Linked DNA regions of Homo sapiens. The protein of the gene in region 3 purifies or fractionates together with the protein of the main gene of each other region. This does not show direct contact. Each region holds a gene or a part of one and is shown on either strand. Other genes may lie near its edges.

Region 1 (2,913 bases), on a different chromosome or scaffold from region 3:
CTTTTTCAGCTAGCATGGCTTGCCATTCAAGGCTATTCTGCTCTAAGAGACAGTGGAGAAAAAAACAGATGGACAAATGATCTGATCAAGCTGAGTTCAGTGCCATTGTTTGACCACCACGCCTCCTTATGATAGTAGGCCTCTGCAATCACACTTGTTTATGCATCTCAATAATTAATTAGTCTGTGATTAAAAATGAAATCTGTTAAGAAGTCTAAAACTATTCACTAAACATTAGACTAGCCTTATCTCGGGGTCGTAACTAGATACTTCAAGAAATCTGTAACATCTGTAATATGAAAATATCTGAGATTTCTATTGACAAAATCATGGATACTGCTAATAAAATGCTGCCCAAATTCATAATTGAAATAAATACTAAATTGCAGTTAGAAATTATTAGTGCAAATAAAGATGTAATTTTTCCCCACCCAAGTTCCTGGATTCCCTAACTCTGCTCACTGAAGCACATATTTTACAATTCATGAATACAGACTGTATTTTTTCAAAGAGAATTTTAATCTGAAAAATTAGCAGAGATTCTGCCTTCACAATTAGAGTTTAACATGAGTCTTCCAGTGTTTTAAAAAGAACTGTAATATACATAAAGCAAAATATTTTGGCATCACCTAGTGAAAACAGACGATGTGGTATTTTTTCAGCCATCTCATATAGTTAGGCCCCGAGTTACAATTTGAGATAAGTTGATTCCTAAACAGAATGTGCTTTACAGAATGTGACCAATTTTATTACTCCCAAGGACCTTGTTTCAGATTATCTTAAAACCAGAGTTCACTGATCTCACATTTTAAAAAGAAAAAAGTTTGTTAACTGTTTTAATCAATATGAGTAGTAACAAACATCCCTAATTGGATTCTAGAGAGGAAGCAGGGAAGGCCAGGTGCGGTGGCTCATGCCTGTAATCCCAGCACTTTGGGAGGCCAAGGCGGGTGGATCACGAGGTCAGGAGTTCAAGACCAGCCTAGCCAACATAGTGAAACCCCCGTCTCTACTAAAAATACAAAAAATTAGCCAGGCATGGTGGCAGGTGCCTGTAATCCCAACTACTTGGGAGGCTGAGGCAGAGAATTGCTTGAACCCGGGAGGCAGAGGATGCAGTGAGCTGAGATCGCACCACTGCACTCCAGCCTGGGCAACAGAGCGAGACTCCATCTCAAAAAAAAAAAAAAAAAAAGGAAGCAGGGAACAACTGAGCCAAAACAAAATTATCCCCTAAGGACTTGACTTTGGACTTCCACATAAATGTGACCTTGTAGAACTAGATACATATTTATCAGGTAAATAAATATGTAATTATTTAGTAATTAGATCAAGATACATGAGCAGTCTTTAGCATTAATAATTACATTATTTTTAGGAACTCTTATCAAATATGGTCCTGGATCTCTTAATTTCCCATATGCAGTGATTTTAGTTAAAATTCCAAAGGATTTCTTTTTCCTATAATATCTCCATTTCTGAGTATCATCATACCAAAACAATTAGTATTCTCTTATTCAAGGCTTTAGATGTTCGATTATTCCCTACCCTTCCATCCTCACACACACAATAATTGCCCAGATAAATAATAATAAACTGTGGTTTCCAAGTATCTCACTGGGATTTTTATTCTTTATACCTTGCAGGACTAGTCCAAGATTTGAATACCCTGAACTTATTTGGCAAGAGCGATGAGTACTCTTAAAATTACTATCTGGAAATTATATTATTTAGAATCTGCCAATTACCTAGATCCCCCCTCAACAATTGTTTCACCAAGGAACTTCCTGAAAGCACATGTATAAGTATCATAACTATTAGAAAATGTTTCAAATGCTATTATATTTGATAGAACCATTCAGTTAACAAAATCCTAAATCATAAACTGGCTTTTAGAATTACACACTTAAAAAAACAGTAAACTACAAGAGTTGTTTTGTACACTTCATTCTCTTCGAATGCCTTTGTGGCTTACAGTGATAATCACATATATTCGTTCCTTGCAACCTTTTTCATTTTGATCTTCGTTTGTAACGGATAACTGGGTTTTCAGGGGTGTGAATCATAGTTGTATAATTCACAGTGGGAAAGTATCCATCAATGAGATCAAATTCATATAAACGAAGCATAGTGGACCAAATTGTCTTAATTTGAACATAGGCAAAATTTTCCCCAATACAACGATGACGCCCTAAAAAAAAGAAAAAGTTATAAGAATCAGTTTAAATTCTTTCTCATCCTTTTTAGCCTGGGGTGATATTATCTACATTTTAGATGAACAGCAAATGTACAGATAATATAATAAAAAGATGACATTCTTTTCACATAAAACAACATGAATTATTAAAAATTCCAGGAGATTTTCAATACCACATTTTAGGAAAACAGTACTTGACTGATCACATAACTTTTCCAATTACTTTTTCTGAAAATATATATCTGGGTTAAATATATGGAAAGTTTGAATCATAAGATGGTAATCTAGTTTGGGAATATAGTAGAATATTCTGTTTGTCCCAAGAAAGCCCTAGTTAAAAGTCAATATGAAAACCTTCCAATCAAACCTCAAATGTCATTATAAATGTATGGAAGAAAATGAGATTTAATGAACCCAAAATAATATACTAAAAAGTCACACCCATGTAGAAACTGACAAGCTGATTCTAAAATGCATATAAAAATGCAAAGGACCTAGGATATCCAAAGCAATCTTGGAAAAAGAACTGAGTTGGAGGACATAAAACTGATTTCAAATCTGACTTCAAGACTAAAGATAAAACAGAGTGGTACTAGGTAAGGATCAACAAATAGATCAATGGAACAGAGCAGAGAGCCCAGAACAGAATATTTTTATGGTTATTTGATTATCAGTACAGACACCAAAGCAAGCCAATGAGGAAAAGCAAGTCTTTT
Region 2 (3,500 bases), on a different chromosome or scaffold from region 3:
ATATATACTGTCTTAGCAAATTTCATATTATTAACTAATAAATGTGTTATTATTAACTATGGACACCAGGCTGTACATTAGACCTCCAGAACTTATTCATCCTGCCTCAGTAAAACTTTACCGTTTGACCAGTATCCTCCTATTTGCCCCACTCCCTAATCTCTGGTAACCACCATTTTCTCTCTGCTTCTATGAGCTCGGCTTTATTCCACGTATAAGTGAGATCATGTGGTATTTGTCTTTCTGTGCCTGGGTTATTTCTCATAGCAGAGTGGTTCATTCATATTGTCACAAGTGTCAACATTTCCCTCTTTTGTAATGCTGAATAGTATTCCATTGTATACTACATATACCACGTTTTCTTTATCCATTCATACGTTGATGGGCATTGAGGTTGGTTCCATATCTTGGCTCTTGTGAATAGCGCTGCAGGGAACATGGGAGTGCAGGTATGTCTCATGGGTACATGAGATTTCATTTTTTAAAAGATCACTGATGAATTTTAAGGAAGCAAGATGAGTTAGGAGACTGTATCACTTTAGTCTAGCAAAATAGGCCAGAACTGAAATACAGGTAGTAGAAGAAGGGAGAAAATAAGAGGAACAAGAACACTTAAGGAGCTAGAGTAAACCAGACTTGATGGAGAGGGTAGTGTAAGTGAAAAAGAGTGAAGGGACAAAAATAAACTCCTGGGTTTCACAGTGAAATAACCACTTCACCCACTAGGATAGCTAAAATAAAAGAGACTATAACAAATGTTGGTGAGGATGTAGAGAAATTATAACACCATACATCGCTGTGGGAGTATAAAATGGTGTAGCTGTTTTATAAAAAAATTTTGGCAGTTCCTCAAAAGGTAAAACATGGAATTACCATCTGATCCAGCAGTCCCACTCCTGGGTATATGCCCGAAAGAAATGAAAACATGTCTACACAAAAATATGTGCATGTGTATTCATAGCAGCATTATTCGTAATCACCAAAAAGTGGAAACACCAAAAAGTCCTAAAGAGGCAAATCTACAGAAAGTAGATGATTTCCACCAGGTACCTGGGGGTGTACAGTGACTGCTAATGGGTAAAGCTTTCTTTTTGGAGTGATGAAAATATTCTAAAATGGATTGTGGCAATGGCTGCACAACTCTGTGAATATACTGAAAATTATTGAATTGTATGCTTTAGTGGGTGGATTGTATAGTATGTGAATCATATTGTAGTAAAGCTATATATATATATATATATATATATATTTTTTTTTTTTTTTTTTTTGAGACGGAGTCTCTCTCTTGTCGCCCAGGCTGGAGTGCAGTGGTGCGATCTCAGCTCACTGCAACCTCTGCCTCCCAGGTTCAAGCGGTTCTCCTGCCTCAGCCTCCTGAGTAGCTGGGATTACAGGCATGCACCACCACCCCTGGCTAATTTTTGTATTTTTACTAGAGACGGGGGTTTCACCTTGTAGGCCAGGCTGGTCTCGAACTCGTGACCTTGTGATCCGCCCACCTTGCCCTCCCAAAGTGCTGGGATTACAGACGTGAGCCACCGCACCTGGCTGCTATTTTCTTCTTAAAGTCATTAGTAATATCTGCCAGAACAGTTTTAGTGGAGTGAGAGAGCCACAGCTGGAATCTAGAGAAACAGGAAGTGGGAGGTGAGGAAATCAAGGAATGAGCAAGTTGTATTCTCCTGAGATAGCTGACTATGGCAGGGAAAGAGAAGTGTAAGGGTGTGTATGAGAAGGATCAGGGTTAATGGTAGTATGTTCTTAGGTTATGGGGTGAGACAGTAGAGAGGGAAGTTGGAAAGATTTGTTTTGGCAGTATCTGTTCGAAGTTTACAGTTGCAGGCTGGGTGCGGTGGCTCATGCCTGTAACCCCAGCACTTTGGGAGGCCGAGGCGGGCGGATCACCTGAGGTCAGTAGTTCGAGACCAGCCTGGCCAACATGGCAAAACCCCGTCTCTACTAAAAATACAAAAATTAGCCGGGCGTGGTGGTGCGGGCCTGTAGTCCCAGCTACTCAGGAGGCTGAGTTGGGAGAATTGTTTGAGGTTGCAGTGAACCGAGACTGTGCCACTTCACTCCAGCCTGGGTGACAGAGTGAGACTCTGTCTCAAAAAAAAAACAGAAGACAAAGAAAGCAAGTTTACAGTTTCATATCCTATGAGCCAGCACCTCTACTTCTCAGCATCTACCCCAGAGCAGCAGAATTGCCCGGAGAACTCTTTCATACAGATTCCTGGCCCTATCCTCTAGACTCCAGAGCATCTATTCAGTGAGTGGGGGTTAGAGCTGCAGCATTTACATTTTTAACAAGCTACCAGATGATGCTGTATTTTAATAATGAAAACTTGGAAACTGAATGTTCAATAGCAGGGAAAATGTGATATAGACACAGTATGAAATACTGTGTGGCAGTCAAAAAGAATGTAGTAACTCTGGATAGTTATTTGGTATAAAACTTCATTTGGGAATAATAATTTACCCAAGGCTAGAAGAATCTAAATCAAGAAATCTTAAGTTCTCTTAGGCTCTCATTTTTAGTTTTCTCAGTTTATCAGTATGACCAAACACTCTGTATCTATACTGCCTCTTAAGTAATAGTACTTTTCTTTATTTGAACAGAGAAACTTAATATTAAGTTTGTGCCTGCTGAGGCTAGAACTGGACTACTGTCTTTCGAGGAGAGCCAGAGAATTAAGAAGCTCCATGAAGAAAACAAACAGTTCTTGTGTATACCGAGGAGGTGAGCTGAAGAAGAATTTAGAATGCCACAAAACATCCGAGGCTGCTGAGTATTCATTTTTTAAATTGCTTCTTTTTCTCAGCTGCCATTATTAGATCCAAATTACCTATTTTATTTTGGTTACTTATATGAGGAATTTTTTTCCTTCTATGATTGTTTCAGACCAAACTGGAACCAAAATACTACCCCAGAAGAACTCAAACAAGCAGAGAAAGATAACTTTCTAGAATGGAGACGTCAGCTTGTCCGGTGAGTATTATAGACTCTATGAAGACTTACTTTGAAATCCTGAGTTCAGATATTTGGCATGCTTACACAGCCATTTGTGTTTTGAAGTTTTGATTCTTTTAAGAAGGAAATGGTAGCATTCTGCTAACAAGTGCAAATAGATGTATGCACAAACAAGATTGCTAGGTGCAAATGCATCCTTGCACAGAGATCGTGAGTTGGTTACTCTGCTCAGTTCCGGGCCTTTTCCTTTCATTCCCTTCTTTGGCCATTGGGCATCCTGGAGTTGATCGCTGCTCTCCTGCACATTTTTCCAGTAAGAGTGTGGGAAAGAAATGACTTTGTGTGATAGGTAAACTTCCAGGGCATAAATAGCTTCAGGATAAAATTTGAATTTGGTGGAGTATTGTCTAAATAAATAGTATTTTTATGGTGTCTCAGCAGGAAATATATAAAATAATTTGACTCTGGATATTTGTGCCCAGTACTTATTTTTAATGTAATAAATTTGAGCATTTACACTGCTAAAAAT
Region 3 (3,500 bases):
AGAGGCTGCAGTGAGCCGTGATTGCCCCACCGCGTTCCAGCCTGGGCAACAGAGTGAGACTGTCTCAAGAAAAAGAGATGAAGGAAGTGAGAAGGTGCTGATTGATACTTACCTCACACTGAGCCTTTTTTCCCCCCACAGACTTATCACTGAACCATTTCACTGGGAAAGTAAAAGGACCACATATTTCTTGGCCGGGCATGGTGGCTCACGCCTGTAATCCCAGCACTTTAGGAGGCTAAGGTGGGCGGATCATGAGGTCAGGAGATCGAGACCATCCTGGCTAACACGGTGAAACCCCATCTCTACTAAAAATACAAAAAATTAGCCGGGCGTGGCGGCAGCCACCTGTAGTCCCAACTACTCAGGAGGCCGAGGCAGGAGAATGGCGTGAACCCGGGAGGCAGAGCTTGCAGTGAGCTGAGATGGTGCCACTGCACTCCAGCCTGGGCGACAGAGTGAGCCTCCGTCTCAAAAAAAAAAAAAAAAAAAAAAGAAGGACTACATATTTCTCAATGAAAATACAGTGTACAATGTTTTCCATGCAGGTGTAAATACTAACTCATGTTCTGTTTCAGGGTGGGAGATGGAATAACCTGTAGAAAGAATCTTTAGATTTGTTTAAATTATACACAAATGATAAGAGATCTTTCTGAAAGTATTGACTTTTTGGCGGGGGAGGGAAGGGGCCTGATAGAACAACCAACAATTGTACACTTTAAGTTTACATTTAGAGTTCACATTAAAAGTTCATTTACAAGGCATCTGTTTGAAATTCGTGAGGATGAGCTGGGCTGGGTGGCTCATGGCTGTAATCCCAGCCCTTGGGTGGCTGAGGTGGACAGGTCACCTGAGGTCAGGAGTTCAAGACCAGTCTGGCCAACATGGTGAAACCCCGTCTCTACTAAAAATACAAAAATTAGCTGGGTGTGGTGGTGGGCGCCTGTAATCCCAGCTACTGGGAAGGCTGAGGCAGGAGAATTGCTTGAACCCAGGAGGCAGAGGGTGCAGTGAGCTGAGATCTCACCATTGCACTCCAGCCTGGGCAACAGAGCGAGACTCCGTCTCAAAAAAAAAAAAGAATAAATCACAAGAAATGGTTCCTTCACTGTTATACTTTAACATGATACAGCTTTTTAATGTTTTATTTTTTGAGAGAGAGTCTCACTGTGTTGCCCAGGCTGGAGTGCAGTGGTGTGATCATAAATTCTTGGGCTCAAGTGATGCTCCCGCTTCAGCATCCTAAGTAGCTGGGACTACAGGCTTGTGCCACCTCACCTGGCTAATTTTTTTTATTTTTGGTAGAAATAGAATCTGTTTGCCCAGGCTGGTCTTGAACACTGGGCCTCAGGCAGTCTTTGTGCCTCAGCCTCCCAAAGTGCTGGATTAATGGTGTGAGCCACAGCACCTGGCCAATAGCTTTATTGAGATTATAATTCAACTATCATGATTTATTCATTTAAAGTGTACAGTTCAGTATTTTTTAGTATATTCACAGAGTTGTGCAGCTGTCACCACCATATAACCTTAGAACATTTCATCATCACCAAAAGAAACCCTATACTCATTAGCAGTCCCTCATATCCCCTGCTTCTACCTAGGTAACCACTAATCTACTTTGTGGCCTATAGATTTGCTTATTCTGGACATTTCATATACATGAAATCATAAAATACCTGATCTTTTATGATTGGCTTTTACTTAGCATAATATAAATTTTTTTTTTTTTTTAATTTGTAGAGACAGGGTCCTGTTATGTTGCCCAGGCTGATCTTGAATTCCTGGGCTCAAGTGATCCTCCTGCCTTGGCCTCTCAGAGTGCTGGCATTATAGGTGTGAGCCACTGCACCCAGCCATTAGCATAATATTTTAGCTGGGCACAGTGGCATGCTCCTGTAGTCCCAGCTACTAGGGTGACTGAGGCAGGAGGATCACTTGAGTCCAGGAGTTTGAGGCTGTAGTGAGCTATGATGGCATCACTGTACTTCAGCCTGAGTGACAGAGGTAGACCCTGTCTCTAAATATTTTAAGGTTCATTAAAATAATATATTTTCAATAAAATAATATTTCAATAAAATAATATTTTAAGGTTCATTCATGTTATAGCATATGTCAGTGTATGATTCCTTTTTCTGGCTGAATAATATTCCTTTGTATGGATATACCAGGTGTTTAACATTTTGAGGAACTGCTGTACAGTTTTCCAAAGCAGCTGCACCATTTTATATTCCCACTAGCAAAGTATGAGGGTTCTAATTTCTCCACATCCTTGTTTTTACCTACCTTTTTTTATTATAGTCATCCTAGTGAGTGTGAGGTGGTATCTATGGTTTCAGTTTGCACTTTCCTAATGACTAACGGTGTTGAGCCTCTTTCATGTGTTTCTTGACTGTTTCCGTATCTTTTGGAGAAAAGTGGGTTCAGATCCTTTGCCCATTTTTTAATTGGATTATTAGTTGTAAGAGTTCTTCATATATTCTGGATATAGGTCCCTTATGAGATACATGATTTGCAAACATAACCCCGCTTCTGTGGATTGTCTTTTTACTTTCTTGACAGTATCATGTGCAACAGAAAGTTTTTGATGCTGTCCGATTTCTCTGTTTTCTTTTGTCACTTGTACTTGTTATAGTATCTAAGAAACCACAAAGGCCATGAAGATTTATTTCTATGTTTTCTTATCAGAGTTTTATAATTTTCTTATAAATTTGGGTCTGTGATCTGTTTTGAGTTCATTTTTGTGTATGGTGTAAGGTAGGGGTCTGAATCCATTCTTTTGCCTGTTGATAACAAGTCGGTCTAGCACCATTTGTTGAAAGGACTGTTCTTTCCCTGATTATATTGGTAGCCTGTAGTATTGGTTTTTATATACTATTACAATTTTGGGAAAATTCAGTACAGAATTACTTGGAGCATGTTGATTTGTCTGAGAAAACTGTGAATACCAGTTTCATGATTTTAGGGTAACTACAAAATGTATATTATATTCTATCCTTTGTCAGATGTGTTAATTTAATCGTTTTATATAAGGTAAGAATGCTGTACCTCTGTCTAAACACAGAAATAACATGTATTTTAATATAAAGAATGTGGAACTTCTAAACTTTGAGGCTAATTTTTCCTGCATAAATTCTCAAATTATTGTGACATGATATTTCATAACTTTACTAGTAGAATCCTTCCCTGTGTTATTAAATATCCACTAAAGTCTCTAGTAAAGGGAATATGATTTACAGAACAAATTTAATGTGTTAGTTTAATTGGTGTTAATTTAATTATAATTGGTGAACTATTACATACTTTTCTTAGTTCCTGTTTTTTTGTTTTTTCTTTACAGCAAAGTATCCAGAGATAAAGTCCTTGATGAAACCTGATCCCAATTTGATATGGATTATAATTATGATGGTTCTCACCCAGTTGGGTGCATTTTACATAGTAAAAGACTTGGACTGGAAATGGGTCATATTTGGGGCCTATGCGTTTGGCAGTTGCATTAACCA
Region 4 (3,500 bases), on a different chromosome or scaffold from region 3:
TCCTTGGTAGCACCTTGGACCAGATATCTTCTGAAGACTTCCAGTTCTTACAAGATCTCCAACATAGGGAGACAGAATTTCCTGAAATCTTTACATCCTCAGAGCCATTCAGCTTCAATTTTCTTTCAATCCAGGCTCAAGACATTGAAACGCTAAAGAAATTTCTCCTGAATAAGAAGCCTCATGTAGTGACAGTTGCAGGAGAGAACAGGTAGGTAGGGATTAGACCACACCTGGTTTAAGGCCGTGACCCAACTCATCCCTTATTATTGAGTCTGGCATATGCCCATAACAGATGGGGCTTGTGCTTGTGCAGGGAGTGTCCCTGGGGATGTTTGACCTCATTTTCTTCAAAGCCCTTTCCTCCCCTACCTCTTCACCCCCAAGGCAGTCATGAGACTGTCCATCCCTAAGAAAACATATTCATTGACCAACACTCATCCCACCAGGGACGCCCAGATGTTGATTGAAGATGTGAAGCGCATTGTACATGAGCTGGACCAGGGCCAGCAGCTGTCATCTATTGGGGTAGAGCTGGTTGACAACGAGTTGGCCATTCTCTATATGAACAGCAAGAAGTCAGAGGTAATGCTGGAGCCTCACCCTTAGGGCCTGCCCAGGCAAGTGCTATTAATCCCAAAGAGATTAAATTGGGAAACAAAAGTTATCAGGGGCACAGGACTGTACCTGTGTACTTATCCATGCAGAAGTTCTCCGTTTTGCAGTTACGGTTCAGATTGGGAGTCCCAGAAATTAAATCGGTCTCAGGAAAAAAGATCCCAGAGAAGCAGAGAAAATGATTTAAACCAGAATGGTTTGGATTTCCTCTTGATGTTGTAGCTAAGGGGATTTTAAGGCCCTGCTGACCCTCGTTTGACTCTAGGCAGAGTTCCGGGATTATCCTCCAGTGCTGAGACAGGCCGTCTCCCTGGCCCGGCGCATCCAGGACCCTCTGATTGAATTTGCCCAGGTGTGCAGTTCCGATGAAGACATCCTGTGTCTCAAGTTTCACCCCTTGCAGGTGAGTAGGATTTGACAGGCAGGCTCGGGTGAAGGGAAAGGCAGAGTAACCTTACTCCTGCCTGCTGAATGTCCACAGGAGCATGTGGTGAAAGAGGAGCTGCTCAACGCCTTGTACTGTGAATTTATCAACCGAGTCAATGAGGTCGGGGTCGATGTCAACCGTGCCATTGCCCACCCTTACAGCCAGGCCTTGATCCAGTATGTTTGTGGCCTGGGACCTCGGAAAGGGACCCACCTCCTGAAGGTAGGATTGGAGTGAATTCAGAAATTTTAAAACTTGCCATTTCATTGAATATGAATATATACTTTGTCAGTATAATTTGACAGATTGGGAGGACCAAGGTCAGTGACTTGTCCAAAATCACTCAGCTAGTGAGAGTCAAAAGAGTCTGACTTCAGACCCAGTTGGCCAAAGCTGTGCCCTTCACTGCTGCTTGCACCACCACACCCAGCTAATTTTTTGTATTTTTAGTAGAGACGGGGTTTCACCATGTTGGCCAGACTGGTCTCAAACTCCTGACCCCAGGTGATCCACCCGCCTCAGCCTCCCAAAGTGCTGGGATTACAGGCATGAGCCACTGCGCCCGGCCAACTAGTGTTAACTTGTAACTTATAAGCCATACATTAGTTGTATATGGTCTTTGGTGTAGGTATAACATCATTTATTTGTTTATTATTTTCCCATTTAAAGCAAAACTTTTTTTTTTTTTTTTTTAATTTTGAGTGGTCGATAGCATGCTGTAGTGCTCAACTAGATACTGGGTGGGACAGAGTTTTTGTTATGAGGGTTTAATAGAGACTGGAACAGTCTGGGGAGGTGGGGCCTGCTTACTGCCCTGGCTCAGTCCAGCTCTCTCCCCCAGATCCTGAAGCAGAACAACACCCGGCTCGAGAGCCGGACCCAGCTGGTCACCATGTGCCACATGGGTCCCAAAGTCTTCATGAATTGTGCTGGCTTCCTCAAGATCGACACGGCCTCCCTGGGGGACAGGTGATGCCCTCTGCCTGGATGGGGCAGGAGGAATTCCCTTGTGGGCTTTGTTTTCGGGTTTCAGGGGTTAGGGCTATCAAAGGGCCACAAGCCATTTTAACTTAGGAAATGTTTTAAAGAAAAGGTAAGGAACTTTATTCAGTCAAGAGCCCCTGACCTATGGAAAAGATCGGTTCAATCATGTGAAACATTTTTCGTGTGAGAGAAACATAAAAAGTACCAGCTTAGCTTATAAATTAAGCATGGAAAACACAAGATTTTGTTCAGTAAACACAAACTTGCTTTTTTATTATTATGGTTTGTTGTGGCCAGATAAGGGTGGGAATAGCGGGGGCAATGAAAAAGGAGTTTGGGGGTATAAAGAGATAAGGAAGGGGGAGAGAGATTTGGTATGTTTTGAGATGATGTTATTAAGAGAAAGTTCTATTCACTTGGACTTTGGACTTCACTATTGACCTCTTCCTCTCCAGAAGTTATCAACTCAGTCTTTGGAGGATCTTTTCCACGGGCACATAGCTCCTCATTCAGTAATGGAAATCAGTGGGGAAATAGGCTTCAAGTTCTAAAACTTCATTTTCCACTCAGCTTTGCTGTAACACTCCACGAATAACATAGGTCCATGTGAGTGCACGGGCAAGACCAGCCTGGGAAGGCTTTATGGGGGAAAATAGCTATCAGCAAATTTTCAAAGGTTTTTTTCCCCTTTCTTGATTTATCTTATTATGAGACTCATATAAGTTCATCATATAAAATTCAACATATAGAAATATTATGCAGAAAGTGGAAGTCCCCCATAATCCCACCCCCCAGAGATAACTACCATAACAATTTTATGTATACTACAGTTTTTCTAAATTTTATTTTTGCTATGCATTTACTAACTACCCATTTACTACAAAAATGGGATCATATGGTTCATAGTGTTTTTGCAGTGCATTTTTCACGTATCAATATATTGTGGCCATCTTTCCATGTCAGCACACATAGATCTACCTCATTCTTGTTAATGGCTGTATAGTATTCCATTGTATGGAGGTGCCCTAATTTATTTAACCAGTTCCCCATTGGTGGACATTTGGGTTGTTACTAGAAGCTTATCGTTCTATATCCTGTTCCTTTTCTGCCTTTCCTCCAGCACTGACTCATATATTGAAGTCCTTGATGGTTCCCGTGTCCACCCTGAGACTTATGAGTGGGCTAGGAAGATGGCAGTGGATGCCCTGGAATACGATGAATCAGCCGAGGATGCCAATCCTGCAGGAGCCCTTGAAGAAATCTTGGAAAACCCAGAGCGACTGAAAGACCTGGACCTTGATGCCTTTGCAGAAGAGCTGGAGAGGCAGGTAAGGGACAGCATGGAAGGCCCGGCAGGAGAACCCATCCCAAGTGGCCAGGTTGGTAGGAGACTTGGGCAGTGAGTGTGCAGAGAAAGCCTGATACTGTTAGTATGGCAGACTTGATCCTCATCTCCCTGCCCTGCTCTACT
Region 5 (3,500 bases), on a different chromosome or scaffold from region 3:
AACAAGGGCCTTACACATGGCAAACACCATCACTACCATCAGTTCCTTCTCGGTCTTCTCCCGGGGGCCCAGTGTCTCCTGGGTTTTCCTGCCTCTTTTTGCCAGCCCTTCCTTTATGTGCCTGTGCACCTCTTGGGTCAGCACGTCACCAGTCCAGCTTACTTGCCTCTGGCCTTGCTTTCAGCCCACACCTCAAGGTCCATCAGAGAGAGGGGGCGTCCTATGTCATGACCCTGCTGAGAGCTCACACTGCCCGCTGGGCCCAGGCCCTAGGTTCTACCCCGTGTGGTGCCCCTCCCCTTCCCAACCACTCGCACACCTGTCCCCAGCCTGTCTTGCCTAATTATCCACCATTTCTGAACTGCCTGGGCTCCTCTTCCCTTCCACGCCTTTGCTCAGGCTGCCACCTCTGCCTGGATTTCCTCCCAGGTCTGCCCGCCCAGTGCCCAGCCTAAAGAACTCGGCCTCTAGGAGCCTAGCCCAGTAGCTCTGCCCCCTCCTGCCAGCTCTTCCCACAGCACCTGCAGCATCTGGTTGTGGTTTTCTTTGTTGGAAGGTTTCTACCTTCAAACTAGAAACCTTTGAAGGTCGGGATTTTGTCCAGGGCATGGTGGGCACTGAAATTATTTATGAATAAATGAATGAACACATCACTTTTTAAAATGTTGACTTCAGAAAATCACAAGTCTATGCCAGTGCTGTGTTACCAAGTTGCCAGGTTCCTCCTTGAGCCGTGCACTGTGCTCTCACAGAGGGGGATTCATCTGCCAGAGGAGTGTGGGGTTGAGGGCAGGATTGTGGGGAGGCTCCTTCTATGGGAAGGCGTGGGCCGAACAGGTGTCCCTTCATAGGAGCTGTGCCTCATAGTCTCTCTCTTATTTTCAGGCCGACTTAACATTACCTATCCCATGCTGTTCAAACTGACCAATAAGAATTCGGACCGCATGACGCATTGTGGCGTGCTGGAGTTTGTGGCTGATGAGGGCATCTGCTACCTCCCACACTGGGTGAGTGGGGCTGCCAGGGTCTCTAGAGAGCAGCCACTTAGGCAGAGACATCTCCTGCACTCGAGAGTCCTGGCCCTGGAGCAGGTGGCCCCGCCTACTCCTCCTGCTCAGCGTCTTAGCCTGAGCCGACCCAGCGAGAGAGAAGGGATCCAGAGCAGTGCACTGTGCCTTATGCGGGCTGGTGGGCTCTGGACGCACCTGTGGGCCACTGTGCTGTGGGAGTGGCCTTTTCTTTGATAGTTGCGCAGCTGAACTGTTCATCTGTGATTTCCTGGGTGAGGCGTTTTTAAAAATAATGGAGCAACAGTATTTTTTAGGTGGTCTAGTAAGTAGGGTGTTTGAGGTTTTTATGCTTTTCCCCTACTTTTAGTAGTCTGTCACAGCATACATGTTTTCAGTTACCTCTGACGTAGTCTCCCAAATCTCTCAACTGAGCTGCCATGGGAGTGACGTCTTTTTCCTTACAAGCAGGCTCTCTTTGGAAAGTTGACTTGAAGGATGTCATTGCAGATCTGGGCTGGGATATCCAGGGCGTGTGAGCCACCAGAGCCTGCCCTCAAGGCTGTACCCCTCAGAGAAGTGAGCAGAACTGTGCCAGTGCTGTAGGGAGGAGCCTGCAGCAGTGAGAGTTCCACACAGGTAGCTGTGGCCCACTTGGCTCCTTCTTCTCCTCACTCCTCTCCCCAGCTCTGGCACATTAGGGAAGTTCACAAAGGGACCTGCTTGTCCTTCTCTTTGTGCTTGGATTACATCAGGCATACTGAGAGACCCCGCAGTGAGCTGTGGGCTGGAAACTCTCAGGAGTGCTTGCTTGGCTGCCACCAGGGAGGTGGTCTGAAGCACAGCCCACCTCTCCTGCTGATGCCCTATCATGGTGGCCGCCAGACGTTCAGAAGGGATGGCCTTAACTAATATTTTCTGAGATTAAATATGAATTGAAATTCTGGCCAGGTACGGTGGCTCACGCCTCTAATCCCAGCACTTCGGAAGGCCAAAGTGGGCAGATCACTTGAGGTCAGGAGTTCGAGACTAGCCTGGCCAACATGGTGAAACCCCGTCTCTACTAAAAATACAAAGACTAGCCGGGTGTGGTGGCACGTGCCTGTAGTCCTAGCTACTTGGGAGACCGAGGCAAGAGAATGGCTTAAACCCAGGAGGCTTAGGTTGCAGTGAGCCGAGATCATGCCATTGCATTCCAGCCTGGGCGACAGAGCGAGACTCCATCTCAAAAAAAAAAAACAACAATAATATGAATCAAAATTCTGAAGGTCTCTTTCCTGCTGTAGCAGGTGACCTTGCCCATGCTGCCATGGTAGTGGCATCCTCTTCAGCCTGGGTCCCAGGGTCCTTCCCAAGGTCTGGGCCTGGCCAGTGTCTCCCCGACAAGAGCCCTGCACTCCCATTGCACCTCCTAGTGCCTGGCCTTCCCATGCTGCCTCCTCACCTCAGCTGACTAGGCCTGCCCAACCTGGCCTGTTGGGGGGCTTTTATGCCTCAAAGCCCAGATTGGCTCACCTGCCCTCCCCAGTATTTGCTGCTCAGCCCCTTGCTATTCTTGTGTTTGTCTGCAGGTGCCCCCAAGGGCCTGAGGCCACATTGTGCTCATCCGGTAGAACACCTGGTCACTGAAGCCACTCTAGGTAGCTGAAGTGTCAGGCAGTGACTACTTCCCCAGTCCCTTCTGTGGCTCACCTATAAGAGGAGGTGGTGATGCTGGGGATACACTGTATCTCGAAGGTTCTCCTTTAACCCATAGACTTGAAGTTTGGGTGGCCTCTTGTCCAAGCTGTTGGACTGCTTTAGACCAGGAAACTAATTGAACCCTTTCTCCCCTGGAAAGCCTCTTTAGGTAGCCTGGAGCTGGTTTGGGGTGTGAAGCCATCAGGCCACCTCTTCCCCTGAGCTGGCCTTCCAGCTCCTGGCATGGGCAGGCGGGTGACAGGTATACCCCATCTGCTGTCTTGGAGGGCATGTGAGCCAGTGCTTTTTCTGGGCTGGCTGGTGGACTCCATCCCACCCATGCTCCCAAGCTTCTTCAGGGCGAGCCAGCCTGGAATAGGTACTGGCCTTTTTCCTTGTAGCCAAGGCTTCGTCTGCTGACCTAGATCCGAGCCCTGGACTAGCCGTTTGTGACATGTGGGTACTCGGCTGCCCGTTGTGCTGTATGCTCTAAAATGCTGCATGGGGAGGGCCAGGCATCAGCTCCTCCTGCCTGCTTAGTGCTCTCAGGCCTCTTCCAGCAGCCCATTTCTCACCTCAAGCCCTAGTCTGACCTCTCTGCCTGTCCTCCTCACATCACCTATGGCAGTGTCCTGCCTCTGGCTGAGGAAGCCACCCCCCATCCCTGGCCAGCCTTCCCTCAGGCTTGCAATTGCAGCCCAGTATCCTTCCCCTCGCTGACAAATTTCCCACAAAAATCTACCCAGGGACAGTGCGCCTGGCCTGCGACTGGCTAACTCTGAGCCTTAGAATACTTCCTGTTAGAACATCACT
Region 6 (3,500 bases), on a different chromosome or scaffold from region 3:
CTGGGAAGGTAAATATCTGATTAGCTTAGAATAAACATTTCTTTCTGAGGCTGAGGAGGGGGATTGGGATATTAAATATCCCAATAGACTTATGTTTTTTCTGCCAGAAAGAATGAGGAATGGCTATTGATAGGGAGCCAACAATGTGTGCTGGAGGGGGCTCATTGGAGAAATTTGAGCAGGGGAGCCACAAGATTAAATTTGAGTATTAAGGCATTCTGGTTATGGTGTAAAATGGGTTAGCAAGCTTTTTCTTTAAAGGACCAGGTGGGAAATATTTTGGACTATGTGGTCTCTGTCATATCTACTTAACCGTGCTGTTGTCTGCTGTTGTAGTGTGAAAGCCACCATGATTATATGTAAGCAAACAGGCATGACTGAGCTCCTATAAAACTTTATTTACAAAACCATAATGCAGATTGGATTTGGCCTGTGGCCTATAGTTTCCTGGGATTGATGGGAGATAATCATGCAAAGAAACCAGGAGACAAAGGAAGCTTTTGCAGTAGTCAGCTATAGTTTCCATGTCACACATCCTTGGAGTAGCATCAATGTATTACAAGGTTTTCACCCGTCCATGGTGAAATAAATAACGTTAGAAATCTCAGTTACTCATTTTACTATGTTGGCCTTCGTTATGCCCTTTTCACTTGTTTTGCTTAATTTTTTTTCCTGTAAGAAATAACATTAATAGTTGGCAGTTTTCTTTTAAATAGAAGTCATTTTGTAAATGTTTGTGTTCCCAGTGGCAGTGGGAATATAAAACAGAGGCAGAAGAGAGGTATAGTCAATATGATTTAGTGATAATTGAATGAGAAAGGCTTGGGGGACAGAGAGAAATCTCAGATGATGTACAGGTTTCCAGATTGCACACTAGTATTTAACCTGGACATGAGGAAGGAGTAGGAAATTTTCTGGTGAATACAGAAGAGCAAAGAGCAGCAGGTCAGCAGGAATGACTAATGTTTTTCGATGCATGTTTAATGGAATATTCGTGTAGGGTATTTTGAGTAGGTAATTGGATAATCAGCATTTATAACTCGCATCCTACTAGTTTGACTCTAAGTAATAAGACTTGTCAAAGATCCAAGAATCTGAAAGTCAGTAATAAATGTCCATGTGCATCATCGTCCGTGACAGAAAGTCAGCATCCACAGAACACAGAATTGGGACAGATGAACTTAATAGATAAAGATGAATATCGGAGTTGTTCCTCTTAGGGAATGATACTCTCCATGACCTGTGTGAGTCACAGCTGCCAGAAAAGAAAGAGCAAGGAGCGTATGAAGGCAGCACAGCAAATTCGGTCCTAGAGTGCCCTGCTTGGCTTCATGTCATAGTTCTGACTTCTAAATAATCATTTTCTGCAAAATGTGCTTTGTGTTTTTCCCTCTTGCCGCCTGCAGCCAATCAGAATCTTTTTAGCAGGACATAATGAAAAGAAGTAAGAGAAAGAGTGTTTTTTTGTAATGGGATAGTATTTAACGTAAACTTGAGAGTGAGTACCAGGATTATACTTAGAATTTATGGACTGGATGGGAAGACTGGATAGAAATCTAAAGATTGCTGACTCAAACACAATGTGGTTTCTTTGATTTATTTTCACAGCTCTGAATTCACGACTGTTAATTGTATTCATATGCATTATAACTTTACAAAGCATCTTCCGAAACCAAATATTTACTGATTTATTATAATTTGTATGACTTTATTATAGAACTGACTTTCCAAGTGTTCATGAGAATTGTTTAGAATTTGCTACATTGTATCATCTCAGCTGTGTCCACATGAGCTATCTGTCACCTTGTCTTAATGAATAATTGTTCACTAGGAATATTGGTTTTGGCATTGAAATGATCTATATCTAAATGCAGATAGGACCCGGGACCACTTTTGAACATTAATGTTCAAGCATCTTAAAATTACACATAATGCTTTCATAATCTGACTTCTGCCCCACTCTCCATCTTTAGCCCTTTTCCCTGTGTGCCCTGTCTCTGGCATTACTGAACTGCTGGCAGTGCCCTACTCACTCATCCTTCTATTGTAGGCAAATACTTTCACTCTTTCAGGAGTCGCTCCCGCTCTTGCTGCTGCGTGGCATGCCGTCACCCTTTCCTGCCCTCTACACCTTTTAATCTGGCTAGTCTCAATATTTAAGTCTCTGCTTGGGCATGTGTTCTAGAAAAGCCATCTCTGACATGCTTTATTTTAATTCTTTTTAAACCCTAATGCCTAGCATGTATTTAGCAGGACTCAATAAAATATTTCTGAGTAAAACAAAGACTGTTTTTACAAAGATGATGTGCAAGACTCTCCCCTGCAGTCTTGGAGCAGAGGGGACAGACGTGGAGGAATAATGTACAGTTTAGGTGGTCAAGATGCAGTAGAAAAATCAGTAAAGTACTAAGGCAGCCTCAAGGAAGGAGGTACCTGTTTATTTGGGGAAAGACATGCAGAATCAAGGAAAACTTCATATAGCATTGTTTCAAAAGATGAAAATAAGGCCAGGTGTGGTGGCTCACACCTGTAATCCCAGCACTTTCAGAGGGAATCACGAGGTCAGGAGATCGAGACCATCCTGTCCAATGGTGAAACCCCATCTCTACTAAAAATACAAAAATCAGCTGGGTGTGGTGGTGCTTGCCTGTAATCACAGTTACTCAGGAGACTGAAGCAGGAGAATCACTTGAACCAGGGTCGCGGAGGTTGCAGTGAGCTGATCACACCACTGCATTCCAGCCTGGTGACAGAGGAAGACTCTAGCTCATAAAAAAAAAAAAAGAAAAAAGAAAAAAAGAAAATAAATTTGTCAGAATAGTGGAGAGAAACATTTTAGATATTAGGAAGATGTTGTACACTAATAAAGGTGTCAGCAGTGATTTTGGAAATCATTTATAAGGTACTATTAGGAAGTGGAGAACAGTACACTGTGTCACCTTATATGTTTCTACTGTATTTTAAAGCTGTGTTTCTGGTGGTTTTGTTCATGGATGTTGGGTGGATGAATTTGTGAGGGAATTTTTGACATGTTTGTTTGTCTTCAATCTGGTGACATCTGCTATCTCCCCAAGTGGGTTTTTGAAGTTTTTGAGAATTATTTCTTAAATGACAATTTCACAAAAGATGAAACACTCAATTTATGAAATAAAATGAAATGTCTCAAATCTGTTTTTAAAAGGCAATAGTTTTTAACTGTTTTAAGTGGTTGATTTTAACTGAATGTATGGATTTTTCAACAGAACAAGACTTAAAGCTGACATCAGAGGAAGAGTCACAAAGGCTTAAAGGCAGTGAAAATGGCCAGCCAGAGGCATGGAAACTTTTAAATTTAAACTTTTGTTTAATGTTGTGTTTTTTTTGCCTTAATAATATTAGATAGTCCAAATGAAATTACCTTTCAGACTAGGCTTTGAGAATCAGTAGATTGTTTTTTTAAGAATCTTTTGGCCAGGCAAGGTGGCTCACGCCTGTAATCCCAGCACTTTGAGAGGCTGAGG
Region 7 (3,500 bases), on a different chromosome or scaffold from region 3:
CATCCCAATCTGAAACTCCAAAATCTCAAACTTTTTGAGCACTGACATGATGCTCACAGGACATGCTCAGGCCGGGCGTGGTGGCTCATGCCTGTAATCCCAGCACTTTGGAAGGCCAAGACAGGCAGATCACCTGAGGTTAGGAGTTCTAGACCAGCCTGGTCAACATGGTGAAACCCTGTCTCTACTAAAAATACAAAAATTAGCTGGGCGTGGAGGCAGGCACCTTTAATCCCATCTACTCGGGAGGCTGAGGCCGGAGAATCGCTTAAACCCGGGAGGCGGAGGTGACAGTGAGACAAGATTGCACCATTGCACTCCAGCCTGGGTGACAAGAGAGAGACTTCGTCTCAAGAAAAAAAAAAAGGAAATGCTCATTGGAGCATTTCAAGTTTTGTATATGGGATGCTTAACTGGTAAGTATAATGCAAATATTCCAAAACCTGAAAAAAATCCCAAATCCTAACCACTTTTTTAATTTTTAATTTTTTTGAGTACACAAGATGTTTTGATACAGGCATGCAATGCGTAATATTCACATCATGGAGAATGGGATATCCACCCCCTCAAGCATTTATCCTTTGTGCTACAAACAATCCAATTATACTCTTTTAGTTATTTTTAAATTTACAATTAAGTGATTATTGACTATAGTCACCCTGTTGTGCTATCAAATAGCAGCTAAACACTTCTGGTCCCAAGCTCTCAGATAAGGAATACACAACCTGTATAAATATACTCCATATATACTTTGAACCAGTCCAGTTTTCAGCCCATGCATGCCCCCACTTTCATAAGTACCTAGCACCTTCAGTTCCTCAGTCATTCTGGTACTCTGCAATGCTAGATTCTGCCTGCCTGTCTGCTGGACTAAGGTTTCTGCTAAGTTAGTTATAATTTGCCCATCTGTTTTCCAGTTTCCAAAAATTTTGCTTTTGTGATTCTCTCATTTTGCACTCCCTCAACCTTAATGGACTTATATCTTTGTACCATACATTATATAAATGGAAGTCCAAGCACAGGAAAATGTTTAAGAGTTATAATACATTTTTAGAAATACTAGAAAGACAAACCAATAGGTCAAAAGTGGGAGAATTACGGGTGACTTTAGTTTTGTTTCTCCTTTGCTTTTCTGTGTTTGCCAAGCTTTTTGCACAGAGAATATATGAGCTTTGTAACAGGGGCAGGCGGCAATTGAATGTTAAAGAAGAAAACTAACATTGAAAACAATTTACAATCTCAAAATCCTCAGTATCTATGCATTTGGCCCCAAGTCTTTACATGCAGGCATTACAATGATTTTTAAAAAGTAGAATAATTTGGGCAAAGTCTAAAAAATATGTGAAAAAAGTGAAAACACAGGCATCTTTCTCTTTTCAAAATTCTATAGAGGCCTACTCTTGAACAAAACTACCTGCATTCAAACCTCTGGCTCTACAACACACTAGCTATATAACAAGAAGTAATTTAAACTTAATAATATCTACTTCCTACAGTTGTGGTGGTGATTAAAGGAATTAGCGCATGTAAAGCACTCAGAACAGTGTCTAGCACAGTAATACTTAAATGTCAGTTTTAATTTACCATTGCTGTGACACAGTTTAACATTTTAAAAATTGAAATAAGTGTAACTTCAACTTGTAAAAAAAAATCAACATTGTACTAACCTTCTGGAGTTTAAGTTGTATTTATTGAAAACTAAATATTCCAAAATAAGCATCCTTTTTACAAGACATTAAAAGCCAAATAACTAGTAAGTTGATGGTATTCAAAGTGGTTAAACAGAAAAATACCTCTGTCATTAAGCGTTTTAGTCCTTCAACTTCATCTTCTCCTGGGTTAAGTTCACCACCAGGTCTGTATAAAAGTTAAGAATTTCAGCTTTCAACTTAATACAATTTGGAGATAACAAATAACACAATAATTGTTATTTCTACCAAGTCACTAAGAACATATTTCAGCATAATAAGGCAATCAAAACAAGTATCAAAGTGAAGGGGGAGAATATGCTTGAATTCATGTCAATTCCCCAGACTAACAGTATACAAACCCTAGGTTTTTTTCCTCTTCGTATATATTTATTTTTATTTTATTGTAGATTCAACGGGTACATGTACAAGTTTGTTACATAGGTATATTGTGTAATGCTAAGGTTTAGGCTTCTAGTGAACCCATCACTGAAACAGTGAACATAACATCCAATAGGAAGTATTTCAACCCTCGCCTCCCCCTCACCCTCCCCACCTTTGGAGTATACAGTGTTTATTTTTTCCAACTTTATGTCCATATGTACCCATCACATAAACCCTAGTTTTAAACAAACAGAATATATAACATAGCACAAACATAAACAAAATTGCTAACCACCAGTCCATCCCAATCTCCTCTCTGGGAGCTATCTGATGATAATGGAGTCTAGAAATGCTCAGAGAGGAATGGATCACATTCTTTAGGCCTAAAGAATGGGAAACTTTTTCAAGAACGTCATCTAAGTATTGGAGACTTTTCTTTTTGGTATAATCTAGTCAAATAGTTACGGATCAAATGTTTGAGAGATGTAGGAGCTTAAATGATAAAACACTAAACTGTTATCCACAAAAACCTAAGTCATCTTAAGAACAGGAAATGCTAATCATACCAAGAAAGAAATATCAATTGTTCTTGGTAATGCTACAATGACATCTAGACATTGATCTTGGACTCAACTATTCCATGGGGTTTCTACCAAGCTCAATCATTAACATCAACAACATACAGAAACATACAGATTACTAGTTAGGAAAATAAATGAGCACTGCAATGGAGAAAAATTACTCATGATTTTCTCTTTCTAAAGACATCATTAACAGCAGTGTTTGTTGAAATGAATGACCGAGGGCTAAAATTGTATTCCAGAGCTGCATAAACAGCAATCCTACTAAAAACTGTCTTGCTGTTAATTTCCAACACTACTTACAGTTTGAAGAAAGTTGTTCCCAGCTGCAGCAGTAACACATGGGGTAGCCGGTGCTCATGTACAATCAGAACCCCTTCTACAGTCCTCCTCATTCCAATTTTATCAAATTCTTCCCTCATGCGCTGAAATCTGGCTGCAACAGAGCTGTCCTTCTCGTAGAGGGGCTCTTTTGTACCAAAAGTATAATTGGTAAGAGGGTACCTGTGATCCGAAGACAAACATCTAACATGAGAACTGAAGAATGTAATTTACCATGACAGACATTAGCATAAAGAAACCATGGTACAAAAAAAGTGCATATATTGTACTCAGACACAGGATTTGTACAGTTAACTAAAGTTAATGAAACAGCAGAGACTGGAATCTTGCTCTCTGGACTCTTAAAGCCAGAGCTTCCATTAGATCAAGCTGCTCCTCCATACTTTAACTTTCAAGTGTAGATAACACTATCCTTAAATGCTTAGAGAAATGGTTATCTGAACATTAGTAATCCTCTGGTTTTATACCATGGCTGCTATTTCAACATTACCAATTTGGCTAATAA

Evidence for each region.
Region 1: the proteins of DEGS1 (region 3) and CYP51A1 purify together in Homo sapiens (affinity purification with mass spectrometry; one large-scale study listed by BioGRID and IntAct). This does not show direct contact.
Region 2: the proteins of DEGS1 (region 3) and LSG1 purify together in Homo sapiens (affinity purification with mass spectrometry, with the first as the bait; one large-scale study listed by BioGRID). This does not show direct contact.
Region 4: the proteins of DEGS1 (region 3) and SUPT6H purify together in Homo sapiens (affinity purification with mass spectrometry, with the first as the bait; one large-scale study listed by BioGRID). This does not show direct contact.
Region 5: the proteins of DEGS1 (region 3) and UFD1 purify together in Homo sapiens (affinity purification with mass spectrometry, with the first as the bait; one large-scale study listed by BioGRID). This does not show direct contact.
Region 6: the proteins of DEGS1 (region 3) and POTEE purify together in Homo sapiens (affinity purification with mass spectrometry; one large-scale study listed by BioGRID and IntAct). This does not show direct contact.
Region 7: the proteins of DEGS1 (region 3) and NUDT21 purify together in Homo sapiens (co-immunoprecipitation; one large-scale study listed by IntAct). This does not show direct contact.

The regions. Positions count from the first base shown.
Region 1 is NC_000007.14:92,111,653-92,114,565, forward strand, and holds the end of CYP51A1 (lanosterol 14-alpha demethylase), read right to left. Parts: intron 2,192-2,913; coding exon 2,013-2,191; 3' UTR 501-2,012; downstream 1-500. UniProt on the Homo sapiens protein: Sterol 14alpha-demethylase that plays a critical role in the cholesterol biosynthesis pathway, being cholesterol the major sterol component in mammalian membranes as well as a precursor for bile acid and steroid hormone synthesis.
Region 2 is NC_000003.12:194,665,692-194,669,191, reverse strand, and holds part of LSG1 (large subunit GTPase 1 homolog), read left to right. Parts: intron 1-2,619; coding exon 2,620-2,740; intron 2,741-2,902; coding exon 2,903-2,989; intron 2,990-3,500. UniProt on the Homo sapiens protein: Functions as a GTPase. May act by mediating the release of NMD3 from the 60S ribosomal subunit after export into the cytoplasm during the 60S ribosomal subunit maturation.
Region 3 is NC_000001.11:224,186,240-224,189,739, forward strand, and holds part of DEGS1 (sphingolipid delta(4)-desaturase DES1), read left to right. Parts: intron 1-3,337; coding exon 3,338-3,500. UniProt on the Homo sapiens protein: Has sphingolipid-delta-4-desaturase activity. Converts D-erythro-sphinganine to D-erythro-sphingosine (E-sphing-4-enine). Catalyzes the equilibrium isomerization of retinols.
Region 4 is NC_000017.11:28,686,205-28,689,704, forward strand, and holds part of SUPT6H (transcription elongation factor SPT6), read left to right. Parts: intron 1-134; coding exon 135-211; intron 212-449; coding exon 450-585; intron 586-883; coding exon 884-1,021; intron 1,022-1,099; coding exon 1,100-1,267; intron 1,268-1,886; coding exon 1,887-2,014; intron 2,015-2,484; coding exon of another isoform or gene 2,485-2,530; exon of another isoform or gene 2,531-2,635; intron 2,636-3,149; coding exon 3,150-3,357; intron 3,358-3,500.
Region 5 is NC_000022.11:19,469,194-19,472,693, reverse strand, and holds part of UFD1 (ubiquitin recognition factor in ER-associated degradation protein 1), read left to right. Parts: intron 1-885; coding exon 886-1,007; intron 1,008-3,500. UniProt on the Homo sapiens protein: Essential component of the ubiquitin-dependent proteolytic pathway which degrades ubiquitin fusion proteins.
Region 6 is NC_000002.12:131,247,536-131,251,035, forward strand, and holds part of POTEE (POTE ankyrin domain family member E), read left to right. Parts: intron 1-3,242; coding exon 3,243-3,313; intron 3,314-3,500.
Region 7 is NC_000016.10:56,444,833-56,448,332, forward strand, and holds part of NUDT21 (cleavage and polyadenylation specificity factor subunit 5), read right to left. Parts: intron 3,158-3,500; coding exon 2,957-3,157; intron 1,858-2,956; coding exon 1,794-1,857; intron 1-1,793. UniProt on the Homo sapiens protein: Component of the cleavage factor Im (CFIm) complex that functions as an activator of the pre-mRNA 3'-end cleavage and polyadenylation processing required for the maturation of pre-mRNA into functional mRNAs.